Linked DNA regions of Homo sapiens. The protein of the gene in region 2 purifies or fractionates together with the protein of the main gene of each other region. This does not show direct contact. Each region holds a gene or a part of one and is shown on either strand. Other genes may lie near its edges.

Region 1 (2,803 bases), on a different chromosome or scaffold from region 2:
AGTTCCAGCTACTCAGGAGGCTGAGGCACAGAATTACTTGAGCCCAGGTGGCAGAGGTTGCAGTGAGCCAAGACTGTACCAGTGCACTGTAGCCTGAGTGACAGAATGAGACTGTCCAAAAAAAAAAGAAGTTTAAAAAGTGCCTTCTTTTACTCTTCAAAGACTGACATGGCTAAAAGGGCCCATCACACAGTCATAGGGGTCCTGGCCCCAGGCAGCAGCTGCACTCTCTGGACTCTATGGCTGCGCCGGTGGAGGTGCTATGTCTGCCATACTCGTGACCTGTGGCCCCATCGCACCTCACAGAACCAAAGAAACCATGCCAAAACCCTTCTCACCCCTTCCTCATCTGCTGGCCTTTGGCTCCTGCCTTCTTGCGCTGTGCCAGAGGTTTCTGATCTCCCTCAAGGAAATCCAGTTTATCAGAGAAGCCTGTAAGTGAAGAAGTAGTTTTGATCAGCACCATTGTATTTTAAGAATAAAAGTTTAAACCACCATATGAGGCTGTTATTTGCTACACTGATTTTAAGAGTCACATCCTGCTCTCCAACACCATTCCCAAAACTTTGATCCGACAGGTCCACATCAACCAAGAAGGCTCCAAAGCACTAAGTGTTCAAATCAACTCTAAAGTACCTGCTACCCTCGTTCCCCTATTAGAGATGTACCAACCTTTCTGATATTTCTTAATAGCATTCATCATATGGGCTTTCTCCTGCTGCCTCTTCTGAAGAACCTCCGTTTGCACCTGTGATATGAACACAAGGACCGTTACAGCCATTCCATACCATTACTCCAGTGTCTACATTGTCTTAATAGCAACACCATGATTAATACCACTACCCTCTGACATTTACTACGTGCCAAAAACTGTGTTAGGGACTCTAAGTATATTCTCAGATCTAGGTATATTCTTCATAGATGAAGATATATCTGTCTCATAACAATCCAGTGAAGTTGAAATTTGTGTTATCCCCTAAACTGAAGCACAGGGAAGTTAACTTGCCCAAGTCGCACAGTGAAAAAATGCACAGCCAAGATGACCCAGGCTGTTTGACTCCAAAGCCAGCACTCACCCTATTATACAATCCTGCCTACAAAACTGAAGTAAATCATGTTTAAGACTACATCGATTTTTCGCATCACATTTGGACAGATTAATTATCTAACTCACTGTTACTAGGCATGAAAGTACCAAAAGGAAGAGAAAAAAACAATGTCCCCAGGTAAAGAAAAGAAAAAAGTTTGAAGGATAAAAGGAGACACTTTATAATACTCTAACAGAGGGTTTCTCAATCTTGATACTGCTACAGTGTGGAGAGAATAATTCTTTGCTGGGGGGTAGGGGCCTGTCCTACACTGTAGGATATTTAGCGGCACCCCTGCCCTCTACCTACTAGATGCCAGTAGTACCCTCCCTCCCAAATTTGACAACTAAAAATATCTCCAGGCAGTCACAGAAAACTCTTGGGGAGCAAATTCACCCCCAGTTAACAAACTCTTCCCCAGTGTTTCCTTAAATTAGGAACAGTGAACTAATAGGCCCAAGTGAGTTTGTCTTTGCTTTTGGTAACTTTGGCTATGTTAAATTAATTACTGGTGTCTTTGAGAGAATCTCAGCCATCCACCTCCAGATCAAAGAAATAATAAATCCGCAGCAGGCCTTTTGTAGAGGACAGGATCCCAGCCTATTCCTACTTTGCTGAGAATGTATCAGTGAAATGACTCCAAACGTGGACAAGAGTTCTGCAGCCCAGATCACAAGTGCTTATGTCCAAATGTTGACGAAGTCTTAACACCCACACCAATCTTCCTCACATTCATTTCTTCCCACAATCCTAACTTTAAAATCTGTCATCTTCTTTCTTAGATGACCATGAAATAAAAAAGGAAAACCAAGAAAAGTTTTAGGGTATGCCTGATCTGGTGTTACATTAGAACTCAGACATTCATAGTTCAAACACGCAGGCAATCTTTCAGATTGGATGACAATCATTATGATAATTTCTTCAGGTACGTGATTATCACATAGATCAGTGAATCCCAAACCAGGATGCATTTCAGAATCACCTGGAAAGCTTTTGGGGAAGAGGGGAAAACAGGCACAGATTCCTGGGGATTCTGAAGTCTAGAATTCTGTTTTGAAAAATTTCCCCTGGTGATTTTGCTATAAGGTCAGGTTTGGAAACCACTCATCTGGACCCAGTGTACAGATGTGAAAACTAACGCCCAGAGAGGTGATTGGCTCACCTGCAGTCACCATACTACTCCTGGGGAACCACTCATGTCCAGGCAAGATTGTGCTCATGAATACCAGCACATACACTGAGAGACGGTAAATACATGATCAACACACAGTTCCGTTCAGTTCAGGGGACCAAGTCAGACCACGGCAATCTCATCTAACACACACTCCGCCTCTTCCTGTTCCCTGCACACTTTTCTTCTCACCTTCTTCCCGTATTTCCTAAGTGCTCGCAGTTGCTTAGCTTTTTCAGACCTCTCCATGGCAGCCTGTTTAGTCTGCAGCTTCTGTCGAATCTACAACACAAAATGCTGTCAGTTCATGTCATTTGAATCTGGAATGACCACTACTTAGGATTCGCTAGAGCAGGGAACAGATATTCCCTGTTCTTTAAACTGCGGAACTTATAAATCATCAGTTCCAACCCCTGAGGACAATGGGGCCCACAGGCTGAGCACTTTACCAAAAGTGCCAGAGTGAAGCCAGAGATTGAAAGTCACCTTCCCGCTCCCAGTGTGCTGTCTGTTTCATTATACAAACTGCCTATTTGTAGCCCAG
Region 2 (3,500 bases):
TGCCTGGCTGATTTGGATTTTATCAGAAGGAAAGAGGAGGAAGAGAGGGGCGAAGTTAAGTGTAAGAGGCAGTGCAGAGAAACAGCTTTGTGGTTTAGGGGGTGTGAGATGGGGACCACAGTGAAATGTTTCCAGTCACTTCATTGATTGCTTTGCATTCATTCAACTAACATTTAAAAGCACCTGCAAGTGTTAGTCACAATGTTAAAATACTGGAGGTAACCAGTGGGAAGCCACACACTCAGCCCTAAAAAACTACGTATTCACACTTTTTCATTTTGCTTTGACTTGTGAGAACATAAAAAGATCAGGCAAACCTGACTGCCTGATATATAAACTTGTACAATTGAAATGTGCTTCTTAAAGGAAGAAATGCTTTCATTTGTTCTGGTCTAATGAAGGCAGGAGCATTCTTGCTTAATATCGGCGTGGGAATAGGAATGTTACCAAAACATCATTTGTGAAGTTGCTAATGGTGCTTTTTTGCTACAGCTCAAACTTTAGCGGACATCAGAATCATCCAGAAGGTTTGTTAAAACACAGACTGTTGGGCCCCACCTCTGATGGTTCAGACTCTATAGATATGGGCAAGTGCCTGAAGATTTGCATTTCTAACAAATTTACAGGTAGTGCTGATGGTGCTGGTCCGGGGACCACACTTTGAGAATTGCTGGTCTAGAGTCTAGAATCTGGATCATAGACTTGATAGCAGTTACATATATCTATTTGAATCAGGTTTTAGCGATTATCCATGTGGCAAAATCATTGCTAGTGGGGTTTGAATCATGGCTTGCCATCTAGACAGATCACAGTGAACCATACTGATCTGGTTTGCTCAGAGTCTATCGAAGTGACTCATTAAAATGTCTGAAATTCAGGTTTCTTACTAATTATATTGGTTTCCTCATTTCATGGTTCAAACACGTGCATCACACTTTATATTTTGCATAACGCATTTACAAATTTTGCTATTTAGTCTGCTTAACAACTTGGTTTTTGTAGACAGAACAAATCTTTTCCTCCTGTTACAGCAAAGGAAACGGAGGCTAAGAGTAGGTAAGGGATCCCTTGAGGTCACACAGCTGCTTCCAGGGCCTCAGATTTTAAAACCAGCATCCTCCAGTTCTGTATCATATGGCGTGGCCTCAGCTGCAGTATTTTCTCTGCCCTCTTTCCAGTAGGGACTACATCTCTTCAGAGCTAGTCACGTACATGTATCTATTTAGATGGAAATACAAAACTTATCTTCTTTAGGCAATCTTTTGAGAAATGTCATTCTGCCTAGCAGAGTCTAAATTTTGGATTTCCAAACAGTTGCAGGTAAGACCCACATGTCCTTTTCATTGCAAAGTGAGTTGATAACCAAAGATGAGCCTTCCTGTGCTGGGTTCCTTCATGATATAGGGCTCACTTTGGGTCCTGTTTGTAGCTAACCAGCTTACATTGATTCTTCCAAGGGTTATCAAATTGATCAGTATCTTTTGGTTAGTCTGTGGACCTCTTCTGCCCCAAGTAAATCACCAACTGAATGTGACTCATCAAAGACTGCAGAATATGCATGTATTTTTCCCCCTTTGGTATATCTCTGCTTGCTTCAGAGATTTTTGCACACGTGAGCTTGCCTTAATGAATGTTTGGCAAATACAAGAAGGTGTTTTGACTCTGGCTGTTGTTTCTCCCTTCTGTAGATATGCAAAAGTTATAAGGGAGAGGGTCGGCAGCAGATTTGTAACCAGCAGCCACCGTGTTCAAGACTCCACATCTGTGACCACTTCACCCGAGGGAACTGTCGTTTTCCCAACTGCCTCCGGTCCCATAACCTGATGGACAGAAAGGTGCTGGCCATCATGAGGGAGCACGGGCTGAACCCCGACGTGGTCCAGAACATCCAGGACATCTGCAACAGCAAGCACATGCAGAAGAATCCCCCAGGGCCCAGAGGTAAAGGCCTTTTCTTTTTCAATTGTGTGAACTCTTTTTTTTTTTTTTTTTTTGAGACAGAGTCTCTCTCTGTCACCCAAGCTGGAGTACAGTGGCGTGATCTCAGCTCACTGCAACCTCTGCCTCCCAGGTTCAAGTGATTCTCCTGCCTCAGCCTCCCGAGTAGCTGGGATTACAGGTGTGCACCACCACACCCAGCTAATTTTTGTATAAATTAGAGACGGGGTTTCGCCATGTTGGCCAGGCTGGCCTTGAACTCCTTACCTAAGGTAATCTCCCTGCCTCAGCCTTTCAAAGTGCTGGGATTACAAGCATGAGCCACTGCACCCGGCCAATTGTGTGAACTTTCAAATCAGCAGAAATCACAAGGAAAGAAAAACTGCCATAATCACTCTACCTTGCCGTGTAAAACTCTTCATTTTCCCTTCCAAACTTCATGCATATGTATACACCATTTTTACATAATTATAATGGTAGTATACATGCAGTGTTTGCAATTCAATTTTTATGCTTAGCACTATTGCCCCCCCCCCCAGGTTTAAAAAAGTGTATATCATTTTTCTAAAAACTAATTAACAAAGCTTTTTTTTAAGGAAAAGAAACAAACATAAAATTGTTTAGATTTATCAGCTGTTAACATTTTGTCCCAATTGCTTTAGCACTTTCTTTCTCTCTATGTATACATGCAGCTACTCACACACACGTAGAACATTTTGGTGTTTAAAGCATTTGATATATGTAAATATCATGACATTTCACACCTGAATATATCAGCATGTATCTCCTCAGAACAAGGCCATTCTCTTACATAATCACAAGACAATTAATACAGAAAATTTATTATTGATGCAAAACTATGTATAATTTAATTTATGGTCCTCAGTGCCATTTCTTTAAAAAAAAACCAATATTTTAAAATTTCTAAAAAAAGCCACAATAACTCCCATTCCCTTCTTTCCCCAGCCCCTGGCAACTAACATTCTGCTTTCTGTTTGTATGAATTTGACAACCCTAGGTACTTCATATAAGTGGAATCGTACAATATTTATCCTTTTCTGACTGGCTTATTTCACTTAGCATGATGTCCTCAGGGTTCATCCATGTTATAGCATATGTCAGAATGAATATTTCATTGTATGTATATAATTATAAATTTTTTATCCATTCATCTGTCGATGGATATTTGGGCCATTTCCAGTTTGGCTATTGTGAATAATGCTGCTGTAAACATGGTGTACAGATACCACTTTGAGACCCTGTTTTCAGTTCCTCGGGGGTATATAATCAGAAGTAGAATTGCTGGATCATATGGTAATTCTATGTTTAATTTTTGGAGGAACGATCATACCATTTTTTGTAGCAGCTGTGCCATTTTTCATTTCTGCCAGCAGTGCACATGGGTTCAAATTTCTCACATCCTCTATCATTTTGTGTTTTCTGATTTTTTTTTTTAATAATAGCCATCCTAAGGAGTATGAAGTGCTATTACTTTTTTTTTTCTTTCCTGTTTTGAGACAGAGTCTCACTCTGTCACCCAGGCTGGAGTTCAGTGGTGCGAC
Region 3 (3,500 bases), on a different chromosome or scaffold from region 2:
CAGTGAGCACTCATGGGGCGGGGGCTCTTACGCGGAGCCTGGCTTTGTGGCCTTGATGAACCAAAACATCTCATTCCTTTACCTGCCAACTATGTACTCATGTATCATAAGCCAGCCTCCGTGCTCCTGGGCCTGGCATATCTGCCAGGGTTCAGGCTGGGCCCCCAACTGCCCCCTGGAGGACATGTCAGGCCCCGAGTTCCCACCGAATGACACCCCGCACCTCCCGCTGGCCCTGCTTCCTTGAGGAGCACCCTGTTTGCAGCGAACAGCTGCTGAAATCCCACTTCCCCGACATCAAAAGCCTCAGTGGGTTTTCACCAAACAAACATAATGCAGAACCGGAGAAAGGTGTAAAATAAATAAACGAAACAAGCTGTGCATTTTCTTTCAGTATTACAGCTGCACCCGAAGATAAACAACAAGTGAATGTCACCAAACATCAATACCCGAGAAATTAACTTGACAAAAAGCTCAGCCATCCCCCGACAACCCCCCAGTCCTGCCCCCCTCCCCACCAACCTCCAACCACCATTTTTGCATTTCTGGAGTTCCCACCTAATGATTTTATTTTTCAATTAATTCCTTGACAGAATGCCAGCCTGTGTCTCTCCCTTCCCTGGCTGGCGCTGTCGGCCCTGCATGGGAGGCGCAGGCAGGCAGGGAGAAAGGCGCAGGCAGGGAGAAAGGGCGGGGGGGCGGGGGGGTGCGTCGGGAGGACAAGAGAAAGCGCTTCTTGGGGTTTTGTTCTGGAAGCAGACGTTGAGGAAAGGCAAGCCGGGGGAGAAGAGCGTGGCTGATAAGGGGAGAAGGGAGTTCTGAAAGGAACCCTGGGATGAGGCAGGCGTGAACAGTCCGGGGAGGGGAAAAGCACTGGGCCAGGAAGCCCAGGGCTGGATTCTGAGTGGAGAGGCCTGAGGTACAGGGTGGAGGGTGCTAGATGCAGGGTGCTGGGTGGGTGAGCTGCCAGGATCAAACCCTGCTGCTCCTGGCTGGGCAACCTTGGGTAAGTTGCTTCACCTCTCTGGGCTCCTCTCAGTTTCTGCAGTTACTGAATGGTGATGAAATCTACACGCCTAGGGTGTGTGAGGGTATTAAAAGAATGAATATATGTATGTAAGGCCCTCACAATAGTGCCTAGCACACGGCAAGCTGTCAATATAGGTTGGTCATTCTTACTGCTGTTGATGGAATCTGTTACTGAGAGCACGAGGGTGGGCTGCTCCCCTCCTCTATAACACGATGATAGCAACAGCAGCTCTCGACTCTGTCTCAAAAAAAAAAAAAAAAAAAAAAGTGACCAATGGGATGGAGCAGGGCCTCCCACTGTGGGCCCACAGAAGAGTGTCTGGATTTGCTGACATGATTTGCCATGAATACAGAAATCAGTGACTAATGTTCAAAAACAGGGAGATGCTACATAAGAATCTGCACCTCTCGTTTCTCTTGAACCTGGAATGGCTAACCTGTGAGTGTGGCAGACCTGTCCCCTCCCTGCCTACAGGTAACTGATGAGGCTGTGCACTAGCTGCCCCTGGAGACACGCAGCCTCACTTATGGGGGCTTTTCTTCCTGTTCCTGGAGGCTCCTGAGTTGCTACTTCCCGAGACACAGGATAGGCAAGGCTTCCACAAACTCCGCTAAGTCGGAGACAGAACTGATTCCAAGAGGCCGGGGTGAAGGGCAGGGGGCGGGGGCACAGGTGGGCGAGGGGAGGAAGGAGGTTGGGGCAGAGTGTGGAGGCCAGAATGAGGCTCCACAATCTTCAGACTCAGTGGTGTGCAGTCCTAGGCTGCTGGGGGACACCAGCCACCTGTAGCTCCCACCCTTGGGGAGTATGAGGGTGCCATGATGTGGGTACCGCAGGGGGGCTGGGCACCCGGGGGCTGGCCTGGCTTGGGAGGCTGCCTGCTCTGGAAGGCTGGCTGAACCAGACCCCCACCCTCAGCTGCTGGTGCCTCTGCATGGGTCTCTCCCTGTCCTCCCTGGCTTCATATCTTGCAGCCCCCACGGGCAGAGCTCTCCTACCCAGATAGGTCTGCATCTCAGGGCTCTGTGTACAGCAGGCACACATCAGGTACGCACAGAATAAAGGGTACTCTTCAGGAGACTGGCCTGGCTCCTAAGACCAAGCCAATGTCCCTTTATTGATACAGGAGGCTGTTTTAGGGCTGTGCCTTTTTTTTTTTTTAAATAGACAGAATCACACTGTCACCCAGGTGAGTGCAGTGGAGCGATCTCGGCTCACTGCAACCTCTGCTTTCCGGGTTTGAGTGATTCTTGTGCCTCAGCCTCCCAAGTAGCTGGGATTACAGGCGTACACCACCAGGCCCAACTAATTTTTGTATTTTTAGTAGAAATGAGATTTCACCATGTTGGACATGAGCTCAAGTGATCCACCCGCCTTGGCCTCCTAACGTGCTGGGATTATAGGCATGAGCCACTACGTCCAGCCAGTTGTGCCTTTTTAAAACACAGCGAGTCCTTCTAAGAACTAGGTATGATCTGAGAGGGTCCTTGTGCAGAGCGGGTGGGCAGGAGCCTGGGCCGCAGACTGGCCTCTGCCACTGTGGGACTCCCAGGAGCTGCTAAGCTCCTTACCTCAGTGTTCCCACCTGTTAAACGGGGACGGTGCCTGCTCTGCTTATCTCATGGGGACCGTAAGGATTCCTGCCTTCAGTCACTCTTAGCAAGCATGACCCAGCATATTCTATGTGCCAGGAATGATGCTGGGGATATGGCAGTGAACAAAACTCCACAGGATAAACTAAACCACCAGCCATGGGGGCCACACTGGGGCTCAGGGTGGACAGGACGAGGTGGGACCTGAGTGCTGCCACTTGGTGGTCCCAGCCTTCTCTGAGTTACCAAAGTTACTCTTCTGCAGACAGGACACAGTAGTAGCACCCACCACAGGGGATTTGATGAGATAAAGCATGAGAGCACTTAGCCCAGGGCCCGGCCCGTTGAGGTGCCAGGCAAACATGAAAGCTAACAATCAAAGGGTCCTGTGAGGCCACCCCAGAGGACAGGCAGTGCCCAGCAAAGGGGAAATCCAGCTGCCCAAGATAAGGCCAAGGGGCGAGCTGCAGGGACCACTCCTCAGGCGCCTGCTGGCTCTAAGCAGCAGGCTGGCTCTGGACTTTCCTACAGAAATTCCACCAGCTAGGCAACATCATTGTCCCACTTTTCAGATGAGGAAGCAGCCGCACTAGGACTCTGAAGAGTCAAGTGGTCACACTTTCCAAGCAGGACCTTGAGCTCAGATAGGGTTGGCTCCAGCCTTACTGGCACAGCATAGCAAAGCCTGCCCCGCAGAGGGGGACACTAGCCCAGCCTCCCTAGGATGGGGGTCTCAACAGGAAAAGCATGAACAGACCCAGGCTATGTAGCAGCAATTTCCTTTTCAAAGGCCATTGGTTCTCAATCCAGCTGTCTGGTAGCATCAGCTAGGAACCCACTGATGCCTGGATCCTACCTCCAGAGGTTCTGATGCAAAT
Region 4 (3,500 bases), on a different chromosome or scaffold from region 2:
ATATAAGACAGAAAATGTGTTAAGGATTTATGTTACCAGTAAGGCTTTCCAGTCACGAGTAAGCCATTAAATTTTGGAAGAGTCAAAAGTTACAGGCAGATTTCAACTGTGCAGCAGGTTGGCACCTCAAACTTCTATCCACCCTCATAGATACTGAGTTATTCAAGGATACACTGTATTACCTTCCTGTCCCCCTAGTCCTGGGGCTGCAGTTGCTGAGTTTGCTACCCTCCAGTCTTAGCCCTTGGAAACATACAGTTTGTCCGAAGGCAGAATCATAGACAATATGTGGGAAACAGAAGTGAGTCTGTTGGGTGTGAAGGGTGTTTAATAGAGAAGAAATACAAAGATAAGTGGACATTATTATCTTACAGTCATCTACAAGGCTTGGAAATTGGTATCTGGTTGCTTTAGGTTATGGAGCATATAGATGGTAAATCCTGGAGTTTTTATAACCACAGGATTGTAAATTAGTGTATGCAGTTACGTGAATTAAGGTGTTAGACTAGTGTGGTCTGGTGATCTGCAACAAAGTAGTAGTATAAGAGCATTTAGTTACGGATAAATTTATGTATAATAAGTCTTATTTAAGGCAATACTGTGGATTGGCAAAAAAGTTTTCTAAAATTTAGCTTATTTTTTATGTAGATATACAGCTAGGATAAAGATAGTTATGTTTTAAAAGGAGTGGGAGGGGGGTCAAACATGGTGAACATGCTGGAGTAGAGTCCGGGAGTTTGGATGGATTGGGCCATGAAAAGCAAATGCTAGAATTCCTAGTTCCTGTGGCATGGAGAATTATCTGGCAAGCTGTAATTGTCTTTTGACTTACTAAAAAGTTTTCCAGGGAAGTTAAATTTTTTTGCCTTTGTTTTCCCATTTTGAGTTGCATTTTGTCTATTTTTAAGACCCTTACCAATCTGGATAGGCCATAGTATAGGAGTGGTAGCAATTAGATTTTAATTTAGAAATCTGGCTAGTATTAGTGAATAGTAAATGCCCAATAAATACTAAAAAGATTTGAGTACCTACCTTAGTAATGTAAGTTATTAAGTGTTTAGTGTAGTTTTTCTCATTTTGCAGGTAAAAAAGCCAATGAGGCAGCTTTCCTAGGTTACACAGCTGTTAATAGTTGAGTCAAGACTAAAAATCTAGCAGGGCGTGGTGGTGCATACCTGTAATCCCAGCTACTCATGGCTGAAGTGCAAGAACTTGAACCCCGAAGGCAGAGGTTGCAGTGAGCCAAGATCGCTACTGCACTCCAGCCTAGGCAACAAAGTGAGACTCCATCTCAAAAAAAAATTGAGTACTGTTATTTCTTTTTCTTTTCTTTTTTTTTTTTTAAGATCTGCAAAGGGGTTTAATAATGCAAATATCACATATATTTCCATTTTTAACACCATATTTAAGTTTTCCATTTTCTTAACAATAGAAAGTGATAAAAATGTTTTTCCCAATGTAATAATACAAATGGAAAATATTATAGACAGTCATACACTAACCCAATGAATAAGATTCACCAGAAGCAAAATCTATTTTGGGGGTCCTATATTGTTACATATATACAGGGCACCAGAACCACATTTAGACTAATACTTTTTATTTCTAGTTAAAACAATGCAGGGCACTCCTGTGACCTGCAAATCTAATTGTACATATGTATGTGTCAGACTGTGCAGGTGGCCAAGAAGAATAGAAAGAAAGACTTTATCCAGCTTTGGAGTTCAGGGCCTGATTGCCCCAGCTTTAGCCCATAGGAACTTGACAGCTTGTTCATACCTCTCATCTTTAGTCATAGTTTCTCTTTCTCCAACCCCTTTTCTCCCTAACTACCCTGTGCCATTTAGACTGGAAATTCTAACAGGTAGCTTTTTCTTTCTGAATTATCTTTACTACTGTATAATTTTTATTTTCAGAATATTCCTTATTTCTACATCTTGAAGACATTTCTTTCTAGTAGATGGGGGAGCTAGAGCTTACATTCACTGCCGGAAAAGGGTCAGTTCCAGTGTTAATTTCCCAGCAAACACCTGAGAGAAAAACTGAACAGAAAAGAATAGTGATGGCTGGCAGAGAGTGACACCTGCACCCAGAAAGCTGCACTGCAGCTGTCTAATATTTGAGGGTCTCTTTTGTTATAACTGCCAGTTTAAACTAGAGATTCTGGCTGGTTGCAAATTCAAAGCAGATCAATACATTTAAATCACTGGTTCAACAAATCACTCTTTTTAATGGTATAATGTTTTTATTGCAATTGAGGACGTTTTCAGTAAATACCTTGAGCTTGAGGCCCTGGCTAAGTATTCCTTTTGCAATACTGTTTTTACTGTCATGACACTGGTCAGTGAACTGTGTTAGTTTCACATATCTATCTATGTACCCACAAAACACCTCCCTGTCTTTGCAGGAGTGACATTACCCTGTGTGTAATGGCAGCCTTGTGCTTTCTCTGTGCAGAGACAGGGTCTTGCTCTGTTGCGCAGGATGGAGTACAGTGGCATGATTATAGCTCACTGCACCCTCATTTCCGGGACTTGAATGGAGGCCCGGCTAATTTTTTATTTTTTATAGATATAGGGTCTCGCCACGTAACTACTTTTAATTATTTTTATTGCCGGGTATGATGATATTGATATGTGAATACCTGTTGTAACTACATTAGAAGGCATAACAAACAGTCAGAGCCACCACAAAATGGATTGATAAAGAAATGATGTATTACCCAGATACCATGAGTAGCATTATCAGTAATGAAAAATTCTCCACAGAAGCTGCATTTTTAGTGAATTTAATGCGTATTAAAACAGTACAGAAATACATACATGACTCAGATAACAATAAACAAATTTACTTTCTATACCAAATCTTTACATAGTCTTCTAGCAACTAACACCCACCACTTCCATTAATGCAGATAGTGCTCCCTATCTTTGGAAAAAAATTTTATTTTTTTATTTTTTTTGAGATGGAATCTCACTCTGTTGCCCAGGCTGGAGTGCAGCAGCTCACTGTAACCTCCGCCTCCTAGCTTCAAGCAATTCTCCTGCCTCACCCCCCAGAGTAGCTGGGACTATAGGCACACACAGCCACGCCTGGCTAATTTTTTGTAATTTTAGTAGAGACGAGGTTTCACGATGTTGGCCAGGCTGATCTTGAACTCTTGGCCTCCCAAAGTGCTGGGATTGCAGGCGTGAGCCACTGCACCCGGACTGGAAAAACTTTAAATACCCTGCCAGGGGAAGTATTGCCCCTGTTGAAAATCACTATTCTAGACTTTGCCTGTATTTGCCTTTCTTACTCTACCAGTTTTTTATTGTATTTCCCCTTAGAGCCTTAGAGTTTGAAATTCAGTCATATTGGAGAGCAGAACTAATAAATGATGGCTGTAATCTGTTTTTGTGGTGCCTATGGAGTTATGGACAGATGGACATTAGGTACAGCCATCATTTCCCTAGGCAATCCTAATCATCTAGCTTGAAAGGTCAGTTTTCAGTCACTTG
Region 5 (3,500 bases), on a different chromosome or scaffold from region 2:
CTCAGTGATAAAACCAACTATGACATTGTTGTTCGGGCAAAGCAGATGTGGGAGATTTTAAGAAGGTAATTCTACCTAAAGATGCCTTTGTTAGTCCCTTTGCAACAGTGGAGAAGTCAGTGTACCTTGTAAATAGTGAGATGTCCTAAAATAAATGACATAGCACTTGGGTTATTGAGGGGGTCCTCATGACACCCCATTAGAGACATCAGTACTTGGAAGTCTGCCCGTCACAGAAGTGTGTAGAATCATTATGATGGCATCGGATATGCTTATGAAAATGTATGAGGTTGAAATAAATTTGACATTCTTCCTGAGAGATTTCTGAGAAAATGAAGGACAATTTCTTATCAGCTAGATTTTGAGATACTTCAGTATTTGTTATCTTAGATTTGTTTTATTATTTTTTTTACTTCTGAAGTTCTGGCTGTTAAGATTTGGATTGATACCTAAAATTATACCTTTTGAGATGAGTTTCTGCCTTTGAGAAAATTACTTTTGTCTGGCTGCTCTGGAATAGTAATTTTAATGGCAGAGGTTTGCTGCCTTAGAAAAGAAAATCATGCTGAACTTGGAGAACATATACTGGTACAGTTTTTAATTTTGTGTGTTTAAAATAACTTCTTTATTTCAACTGTGTTTCCTTCCTCTCCTCATTTGTAGAAAAGACTGTGACAAAGAAAAAAGAGTAAAGTTAATGAGTGATTTGCAGAAGTTGATTCAAGGGAAAATTAAAACTGTAAGTAGCATATACTCATTGTTGCAATTTTTAACAGTTGAAGTTGCCTCACTCTCAGGAGTAGCTGACCATTCATGACAGATGATCTTATCATTGTTTCCGGTGTATTTGGCCAAAAGTTTTAAATATCTTCCATAACACTGAACTACATAAAAATTTAAAAGTGAGGGACCTTACTGCTAGGGAGTTTTGAAAAGATTATCAGTCTTTTCAGTCATTTTTTAATAATTCTTAAAATAAGCCAGTGTTTCCTTAAAGTTATCTTGAGAAGTTTATTAGTTCAGTAGTATTTTATAAATGTGTTGTTCTAAACTCCATATAATTTAGTATGTTCTCAATTGCCAACTTCTTTATATTTGTGATGTGAACATATTACTTCATTCTTTTCCTCCATGCTTTTGTAAACATCATGCGAAGATCTTTAACTAAAATATAATCATTTCAGAATTCTAAAGTAGTTTTCATTGTTGCTGCTTAATCCTGTTTTGTAATAAATTTCCTGTGACTCTTGTGTATTTGGATTAATACATAATGGCTTGGAAGACAACAGATTCTCATAGTTTTACGGCACCTGGAGGGGCAGCCTTTGTCAAGTCAGATGCATAGGTCTAACCAGATGCTATATTACAGTTTGAAGGAAAGTAGCAAGTCATCAGCTGCCGCTTTCTTATAAATTCAGCAGGATCTTTTTACGATAGGACTGCCCCCTCAGCTCCGACAATTTATAAATATTTCACTCAGGATTCTTTCTCAACTACCCTGAGGTCACAGCTGTATGACCATGGTGTTAGAAGTGAGTTTGGTATTCAAATCCTGGCTGGGCTGCTTAAAATATGTGTGCCTTTAAACAATAACAATAACTTCTTTATTGATTATTTACTATAGGCTAGGAATTGTGTTAACCAGCACATGCATTGTGTCGTTTACTGTATGTCATCATCCGTGTTGTATATTTGATGTATCTGGGACTCAGGGAAGTAAGATTCTTCCTCGGGGTAATAGAGATAGCGAGTTCCTTCTCATAACCTTACTTCCCTCATCTGTAAAGTGGGAATAGTAACAGCTCATTCTTATTGTTGCTTTGAGTTATAAATAAGAACACTATGTTTAAGGCATTTATGTTGATTATATAATAGGTGCTCAATATATGCACAAAAACAGCCTTATTTTTTTAAGAGATACTTAAGAGATGTCTTACAAATCTTGAAATTTATGACTTTGATGGAAGTATACACTCACCTGATTTGTTGGAATTCAGAAACTTTAGAGTGAGCAACAAATAAGCACTTTTGAAGTAGACTGGTACTGTGGCGTAGTGAAAATAATTTTGCATGATGGATGATTCGTGGAGGGCGCTCTAGAAAATTGGTCAGTGGGTCCTTCCAACAGTCATGAGGAGGAATGGGTTAGAGAATCAGATTCAAAACACAACAACTCTTCTAGAAATATAACTGGATATATGTGCAGGAATTATAATGAAAATGTGACAAATGGATGATTAACTTATTATATAATTGACAGTGTTTATGGACATAGTTGTATTTATTTCTTTAGGAAGACTTTTAGATTGATCTTACAGGTATACTTCTGGTTGCCAAAGCCAAACATTCTTAGATCACTTATATAAAAATCATACAGTAACAGACCTTTTAAACAGAAATATTTCCCTTTTAGGGACGGTAACTTATCAAAGAAATGAGAAGTATAGTCTGTATAATCATCAGATGGTTTGGTTTGCTTTGGTTTTAATTGCAATGAGAGGAGTCTTGCAAAATGGTTAAATTTATCCTTGCCTCAATGTCATTATTGTACCTATCAAATATGGTAGGCCTCAAAACAACAGAATGATGTTTTGTATAATTAAAACAAGTAGTTCTCAGTAATCTAGGTTTGATTTTATTCATGAAGACTACCTTTTTTTCTAACAAGAAATTCCAGAAGAGGTCACAATAAATTAGTGAGAAACATAAGTCTCAAAAGAGAATTAGTCTAACTCAAACTTTTTCCTGCAGATTGCATTTGCACACGATTCAACTCGTGTGATCCAGTGTTACATTCAGTATGGTAATGAAGAACAGAGAAAACAGGCTTTTGAAGAATTGCGAGGTATTTATTACATACTAAAGATTATGTTATCATTTGCAATAAGTCACTTGTTTTCTCTTAAAATACCCAAGACTGTCCTAGAAAACAATTTTTGTTTAGGTTTGTCTTCTCCAGATCCTTTTTTGTTTTTATTTTTTCCTTGCCTGGGACAAATTTCCTCCCTTTGTTTCCAGAGAACTGAAATGAGATCTGAAGTCACTGTAATGTATTTTTGTTTTTCAGATGATTTGGTTGAGTTAAGTAAAGCCAAATATTCGAGAAATATTGTTAAGAAATTTCTCATGTATGGGTAAGTTGTTTTATGTATAAAATACATTTTTTCTTTGTCTTTTGAAGACATGGTTTCCAACTGTGCTCAGATGCGAGATAGGAAGTCTGTGGTCTTTATAAGTAATAGTAATGGCTCTCAGCAGATGCTTGTGTTGTTTTTAGAGAGTATCATCTTAAATACAATTATCGAAATTAATGTAAAATTATGGTACTGCCTTCATTCCTAAAAAGATACATGAGAAATGTCCTGCAAATCTCCTTGAAATTTATGACTTTGATGGAGGTATACCCTCACCTTCTGATTTGTTGGCATTCAAAAGTTTTAAAGACAGAGTGAGCAACAGATAAGCACTTTTGAAGTAGACTGGTATTGTAGCATAGTAAA
Region 6 (3,500 bases), on a different chromosome or scaffold from region 2:
TCCGTCTCAAAAAGCAAGCAATGAAATTAGTTACCTACAACAGGTGTGAGGGATTAGGGTAGACAGACGGGATGAGACGGGAATGATAGTTTTGACTTCTGGAAGCATTTACTGTTTTACATATTAAAGAAATAAAACTAAGTCAACAAAGATGGGGAAAGAATCTAAAATTAAACATGAACAGAAAGTTAGCTGCATATTAAAGTGATTACAATCTCCAAATGGACCAAAGACCTACACAGAGGCGCTAACATGCACAACTCTCAGAAGCAAAAACAGGCGAGTCTTCATGACTTTGGGTTTGGCAATTGGTTTTTAAGATATGAAACTAAAAGCACAATCAACAAGAGGGAAAAAAAAAAGTCACACTTAATCAAACTTTAAAACTTTTGTGTATCATGGACATTATCAAGAAAGTGATTACAATAACACAGATAGAAAATCAGGCTGGGCAGGGTGGCTCATGCCTGTAATCCCAACGCTCTGGGAGGCCAGGGTGGGAGGATCACTTGAGCTCAGAAGTTCAAGACCAGCCTGGCCAATACAGCAAGACCTTGACTCTACAAAAATAAAAACAAAATTAGCCAGGTGTGGTAGTGTGCCCCTGTATGTAGTCCTAGCTATGTGGGAGGCTAAAACAGGAGGATCACTTAAGCCCAGGAGATCAAGGCTACAGGGAGCTATGATCACACAACTGCACCCCAGCCTGGGCAACAGAGCAAAACCTCGTCTCAAAAAGCAAAAAAAAAAAAACAAAAAAAAAACAAAAAAACTTAAAAATCTAACCGATATTAGCCAAGACACTCAAAAAGAAAAATAGAAGACTTACACTACCAGATTTTAAAACTTCCTATAAAGTCACAACAACTAGGATATGGTTTTGTGTAAGGATAAATAGATCAACAGAACAGCACGAAAAAGACCTGCACATATAAGGTCACTCGATTTTTGGCAAACACACCAAAACAAATTAAAAATCTCTTAAAAAAATAGTACCAGAGCAACTAACTAGGTATCTGCATGGAGCGGGGTGGGGGGAAGAAAAAAAAATCAAACCATGATCTCTAACTCATACCACAACAAAAATTAGACCTAGGATCACTTAAATGTGATCTAAACTAAAATTACAAAGACTTTATAACAGGAGAAAGCCTCAAGACTGTAAGGCTGGCAAAGAGTTGAACACAAAAGATATCCACCATAAAGAAAAAAGAAATTCCTCAAAATTAAAAACCACTGGCCGGGCGCGGTGGCTCACGCCTGTAATCCCAGCACTTTGGGAGGCCGAGGTGGGCAGATCACGAGGTCAGGAGTTCGAGATCAGCCTGGCCAACATAGTGAAACCCCGTCTCTACTAAAAATATAAAAAATTAGCTGGGCGTGGTGGCGGGCACCTGTAATCCCAGCTACTTAGGAGGCTGAGACAGGAGAATTGCTTGAACCCAGGAGACGGAGGTTGCAGTGAGCTGAGATGGCACCACTGCACTCCAGCCTGGACAACAAGAGCGAAACACCATCTCAAAAATAAATAAATGAATAAAATAAAAAATAAACTGCTCATCAAAAGACATTTAAAAAGTAAAAAAGGGGGCCAGGTGCAGTGGCTCACGCCTGTAATACCAACACTGTGGTAGGCCGAGGCGGGTGGATCACCTGAGGTCAGGAGTTTGAGACCAGCTTGGCCAACAGGGTGAAACCCTGTCTCTACTAAAAATACAAAAATTAGCTGAGTGTGGTGACACATGACTGTAATCCCAGTTACTTAAGAGGCTAACACAGGAGAAATGCTTGAACCCCAGAGGCGGAGGTTGCAGTGAGCTGAGATCGCGCCATTGCATTCCAGCCCGGATGACAGAGCAAGACTTTGTCTAAAAAACAAAAAAAACTAAAAAAGGGGCCAGGCACATTGGCTCACTCTTGTAATCCCAGCACTTTGAGAAGGCCAAGGCGGGTGGATGGCTTCAGTCCAGGAGTTTGAGACCAGCCTGGGCAACATGGCAAAACCCCGTCTCTACAAAAAAAATACAAAAATTGGCTGGGCTCGGTGGCTCACGCCTGTAATCCCAGCACTTTGGGAGGCCGAGGCAGGCGGATCACCTGAGGCCAGGAGTTTGAGACCAGCCTGACCAACATGGAGAAACCCCATCTCTACTAAAAATACAAAATTACCTGGGCGTGGTAGCGCATGCCCATAATCCCAGCTACTCGGGAGGCTGAGGCAGGAGAATCGCTTGAACCCAGGAGGCAGAGGTTGCGGTAAGCTGAGATCACGCCATTGCACTCCAGCCTGGGCAACAAGAGCGAAACTCTGTCTCAGAGGAAAAAAAAAAAATACAAAAATTAGCCCAGTGTGTGGTGGCGTGTGCCTGTAGCCCCAGCTACTTGGGAGGCTGAGACAGCAGGATCACTTGAGCTCAGGAGGTCGAGGTTGCAGTGAGGTGAGATCATGCCACTGCACTACAGCCCGGGTACCAAGTGAGTTCTTTTCTCTAAAATCAAATAAAATAAACTTGTTATTTCAAAATATACATATTTCCTAGCTCTATCTCCTAACCGAGAGCCATGGCTCTCCAGCAGGAACAAGCATGCTAGCACCCTGTCCTGTCTCTACACACCACTCCCAATTAGAAGGAACCGGATCTTCTTGGAGGAATGGCCAAGACCATTTCTATTAGAAATTTATGTTTCCACTGGGGCTAAAGCTAGAGCAGGGGAAGTTCAAAGTGAGGCTAAAACATTTTGTTGTATCAGAAAGCATGGAAGTTCTCAAAATGTGAAGAGGGGAGGTGCAAAGGTTATTTAATAAAGGACTGTCTCAGCCAGGCATGGTGGCTCAAGCCTGTAATCCCAGCCTGGGCGACAAGAGCAAAACTCTGTCTCAAAAAATAAAGGACTGTCTCTTCAACAAACAGTGCAGGCACAATTAGACATCCAAATCCAAAAAAAAAAAAAAAAAAAAGACAAAAACATCCCTTATGTCACAGTATATATGAAAACTAACTCGAAATGAATTATAAACCTAAATGTAAGAGCTAAAACTAAAATTTCTAAGGAAAATGACTTTAGGTTAGCCAAATGTATCTCAGCATACACAAAAATTATTAACTATAAAAAATTTAACAAACTACACCTCACCAAAATTCAATACTTCTGCTTTTTGAAAGTCACTTAAAATCAAACGACAAGCCACAGACTTAAGAGAAAATATCTGCAAAATACTTATCTGAGAAAAAACTTGAATTCAGAATATATATAGAACCTCCAAAACTCAATAATAAAAAGACACTCAAAAAAACTGGCAAGATATAAACCTATATTTCATCAAAGAAAATAGTAAAATAAAAACACGAAAAGAAGCTCAGTATTGCTAGTCTTCATGGAGATATATAAATTAAAACCACAACAAGATACTACTGACTACCTGCTAGAATGACTTTAAAAAAAAATTTTTTTTTTTTTTTTTTTTTTTTTGAGACGGAGTCTCACTCTGTCACCCAGGG
Region 7 (3,500 bases), on a different chromosome or scaffold from region 2:
TTTTTAGTAGAGACGGGGTTTCTCCTTGTTGGTCAGGCTGGTCTTGAACTCCTGACCTCAGGTGATCCGCCCGCCTCGGCCTCCCAAAGTGCTAGGATTACAGGCGTGAGCCACTGCACCCATCCTTTTTTGTTTTGTTTTGTTTTGTTTTGTTTTTTGAGACAGAGTCTTGCTGTGTTGCCCAGGCAGGCTGGAGTGCAGTGGCACAATCTCAGTTCATTGCAACCTCCACCTCCCAGGTTCAAGCAATTCTCCTGCCTCACCCTCATGAGTAGCTGAGATTACAGGTGCGTGCCACCATACCCGGCTAATTTTTTGTATTTTTAGTAGAAATGGGGTTTCACCATGTTGGTCAGTCTGGTCTCGAACTCTTGACCTCAGGTGATCCATCCACCTCAGCCTCCAAAAGTGCTGGGATTACAGGTGTGAGCCACCATGACTGGCCTGACTAAACTTTTGAAACATTCCATTGTAGGTTCTTCCTAAAACATTATGAGACCAGATTCTGTTATTTCTATTATACAGAAGAGGAAGCTTCTTTTAAGGAGATAATCTGATTTGTTTAACTTACATGTTCTGTTTTAAGTTACTGAAGTAAACCCACTATTTAACTAAAGACTGTAATACTCTTAGATTGCCATTTATTAGCCAGTTGAGGTAGTGTGTGCCTGTAGTCCTTGCTACTCAGGAGGCTGAGGCAACAGGATCTCCTGAGCCTAGGATTTCAAGTTTGCAGTGAACTGTGATTGTACCATTGCACTCCAGCCTCAGCAACAGAGCAAGACCGTATCGCTAAAAAAGAAAAAGATTGTCATTCAGAGGTGACACTGCCAGAATTAAGTCTTTGGTTTACTGTATGCTATAAGTAGATACCAAAACACTGACCCTTTCCTCCATCTGTCACAGTGAGGAGAGCTATGTCTTTTATTATAGATCAAGAATGAAGCTTATTATGGTATGGCTAGTATAGGTAAAGGTCTCATTCTTTTCTTTTTTTTTTTTTTTTTTGAGATGGAGTCTCCCTCTGTTGCCCAGGCTGGAGTGCAGTGGCACTATCTCAGCTCACTGCAACCTCCGCCTCCCAGGTTCAAGCGATTCTCCTGCCTCAGCCCCCACGAGTAGCTGGGACTACAGGCACACACCACCACACCCAGCTAATTTTTTGTATTTTTTTTAGTAGAGATAGGGTTTCATCACCATGTTAGCCAGGCTGGTCTCGAACTCCTGACCTCATGATCCACCCACCTTGGCCTCCCCAAGTGCTGGGATTGTAGGCGTGAGCCACTGCGCCCAGCCAATTTACTAGGTTTTTAACCTTATCCAGAAACTAGATGACCGTGTTACCCTCCTTTGCCTCAATTCTCGGTGGTTAATTTTTTGCCCAAATCCCAAATACTGTCTTTAATAGTATTAGAATATTTCGCCAAGGCCTTAGGCCCTGGTACTCTTGTGAACCATTTGGGAACTGAGACAGTGAAACTTGAAAAGAGGCATGTGAGCACTGCTTTTCCTGTACCCTGTTTGTGACTTAGGAGATGGGGGTGGCCTGCCTTTGCACATTCTTCCTGCTTCCACCCTCCTGAATTCAGGATTCTGTGAATCAGTGAGCTCCAGGTTTTGGCCTTCCCTTCAACCTCTGCAGCTCTGTCAATTCCTCTACTGGGTTTTTCCTAGTTTTGCCCTTTACTTGAGATAATTCACTGTATTTATGAGTTTTGATTTTTTAAAATGAAATGCTCTTGTCATTTAGGGAGGATTTACTGATAATATATATGAGGATCTAATGCTAAGTTTAGAAAGAAAAGATATGAGTGTCAATTTCTAACTTCTTTATTAAAGATTTTACAGAAAACGGAAAGTATTTCAAAAACTAATCGTCAGACGTCTACAAAAGGCCAGGTAAAATTTTTTTTATCATTTTACATGCAAGATATTAGAGAAGGATAAGTAGGAAAACATATTCAAGACTACTGTAGCTGATCAATATTCAAATTGATGTGTTTTAAAATTTATTTTAAGGTTTTACGTAAGAAGAAGAAAAAAGTTTCAGGTACTCTTGACACTCCTGAGAAGACTGTGGATAGCCAGGTAAAATGGTTTTCAATACTCCAGACACCAGATATTATAGAAATAATTTGAAGGAGGAGAAGCAGTTTCTGCTACTCTCATTTTAAGATTTCAAATTAAATATTGTGACATTTGGTAGATCTTTATTGTTGATTTAGCAATTTTCTGCCTAAAACCTTATAATGGAACATGCTATATTTGTTAATTGTGAATTTCTGTACCAAGTTTGATAAGCATCTAAGTTCTTTATTCTTTGCAATAGTATCACCAAAAGATGGTAACAGAGCTAAAATAATGGGGCACAACTTGTAAAAATAGAGGAGAGATGATATTTTTGGGTAAAGTCATAATCATGTTTTACATTTATGTATTATAATCTTTACTTGTTGAATCCAGGGCCCCACACCAGTTTGTACACCAACATTTTTGGAGAGGCGAAAATCTCAAGTGGCTGAACTGAATGATGATGATAAAGATGATGAAATAGTTTTCAAACAGCCCATATCCTGTGTAAAAGAAGAAATACAAGAGACTCAAACACCTACACATTCACGGAAAAAAAGACGAAGAAGCAGCAATCAGTGATTTTCAATGTATTATATTTCTTTTGAAAAATATAATATTTTTATGAGAGTGGACTTTGTATTTCACTAGGTACAATGGAATACAACCTTTGACAAGATTTTCAGAGGAAAAATACACTGTTTGGTCAAGTTAAGGAAAGCAGTGTGTAATTTTGGATTGCCTGCCCTTGGCTGAAATACAGGGGTGCATACCATCTTGCAGTGGCTTGGCTGACATTGCCTCTTTGTCCTGGCCTCTAGTTTTCTTTTGATATTTCATAGCTCTCCTTAGTTTACTCTGCCTGGATAGAAAGTTGACCACTAACTGCAGGTTTAAGTACTAAACTGCAGCCTTTTCTGTCGCCAGCAATTAAAGACCACCAATCTTGTTTGTCCATCTACATGGTTTGTCGGGGACATTTAACTCATGGAGGTGCTTTAGATTTCAACATCAGATGGTTGAAGCTGGAAGTTTAATTATATGTAGAGTGAGAAGGCAGTTCCAGTTTTAGCACAGATTTGTTTATGTGTTCAGATTTTAATAGAGATTCAAAAATGACTCATTTTTACCAATAATGTTAAATTAGTTTTGGTTGTGCTAGCATGAATTAATAACCACCATTTTATACCAGTATCATCAGTGAAGAATTGTATTTCAAGATTCAAACAATAACCAGCAATTAAACTTTTTTCTACAATGTATTTGTTTGCGAGTAGGACTTGGGAGTCATTGGGAAAAAAAAATAATAAATTTTCCCCTTCATTAACGAATTCAGACTCATTAAAAACATTGCCATCAGATGTAGTAGCTTGTGCCTGTAATCCCAGCACTTTGGGAGGCTGAGGCAGGAGGATCACTTAAGGCTAGGA

Evidence for each region.
Region 1: the proteins of ZC3HAV1 (region 2) and EBNA1BP2 purify together in Homo sapiens (affinity purification with mass spectrometry; 2 studies listed by BioGRID and IntAct, with this or other methods). This does not show direct contact.
Region 3: the proteins of ZC3HAV1 (region 2) and RBM19 purify together in Homo sapiens (affinity purification with mass spectrometry; 2 studies listed by BioGRID and IntAct, with this or other methods). This does not show direct contact.
Region 4: the proteins of ZC3HAV1 (region 2) and YBX1 purify together in Homo sapiens (co-immunoprecipitation; 3 studies listed by BioGRID and IntAct, with this or other methods). This does not show direct contact.
Region 5: the proteins of ZC3HAV1 (region 2) and PUM3 purify together in Homo sapiens (affinity purification with mass spectrometry; 2 studies listed by BioGRID and IntAct, with this or other methods). This does not show direct contact.
Region 6: the proteins of ZC3HAV1 (region 2) and STAU1 purify together in Homo sapiens (affinity purification with mass spectrometry; 3 studies listed by BioGRID and IntAct, with this or other methods). This does not show direct contact.
Region 7: the proteins of ZC3HAV1 (region 2) and NIFK purify together in Homo sapiens (affinity purification with mass spectrometry; 3 studies listed by BioGRID and IntAct, with this or other methods). This does not show direct contact.

The regions. Positions count from the first base shown.
Region 1 is NC_000001.11:43,166,488-43,169,290, forward strand, and holds part of EBNA1BP2 (probable rRNA-processing protein EBP2), read right to left. Parts: intron 2,542-2,803; coding exon 2,452-2,541; intron 749-2,451; coding exon 673-748; intron 433-672; coding exon 339-432; intron 1-338. UniProt on the Homo sapiens protein: Required for the processing of the 27S pre-rRNA.
Region 2 is NC_000007.14:139,082,221-139,085,720, reverse strand, and holds part of ZC3HAV1 (zinc finger CCCH-type antiviral protein 1), read left to right. Parts: intron 1-1,688; coding exon 1,689-1,941; intron 1,942-3,500.
Region 3 is NC_000012.12:113,826,826-113,830,325, forward strand, and holds part of RBM19 (probable RNA-binding protein 19), read right to left. Parts: intron 1-3,500. UniProt on the Homo sapiens protein: Plays a role in embryo pre-implantation development.
Region 4 is NC_000001.11:42,688,918-42,692,417, forward strand, and holds part of YBX1 (Y-box-binding protein 1), read left to right. Parts: intron 1-3,500. UniProt on the Homo sapiens protein: DNA- and RNA-binding protein involved in various processes, such as translational repression, RNA stabilization, mRNA splicing, DNA repair and transcription regulation.
Region 5 is NC_000009.12:2,830,596-2,834,095, reverse strand, and holds part of PUM3 (pumilio homolog 3), read left to right. Parts: coding exon 1-65; intron 66-663; coding exon 664-739; intron 740-2,751; coding exon 2,752-2,845; intron 2,846-3,067; coding exon 3,068-3,134; intron 3,135-3,500. UniProt on the Homo sapiens protein: Inhibits the poly(ADP-ribosyl)ation activity of PARP1 and the degradation of PARP1 by CASP3 following genotoxic stress. Binds to double-stranded RNA or DNA without sequence specificity. Involved in development of the eye and of primordial germ cells.
Region 6 is NC_000020.11:49,125,835-49,129,334, forward strand, and holds part of STAU1 (double-stranded RNA-binding protein Staufen homolog 1), read right to left. Parts: intron 1-3,500. UniProt on the Homo sapiens protein: Binds double-stranded RNA (regardless of the sequence) and tubulin.
Region 7 is NC_000002.12:121,726,876-121,730,375, reverse strand, and holds the end of NIFK (MKI67 FHA domain-interacting nucleolar phosphoprotein), read left to right. Parts: intron 1-1,815; exon of another isoform or gene 1,816-1,839; coding exon 1,840-1,899; exon of another isoform or gene 1,900-2,019; coding exon 2,020-2,088; exon of another isoform or gene 2,089-2,463; coding exon 2,464-2,652; 3' UTR 2,653-3,431; downstream 3,432-3,500.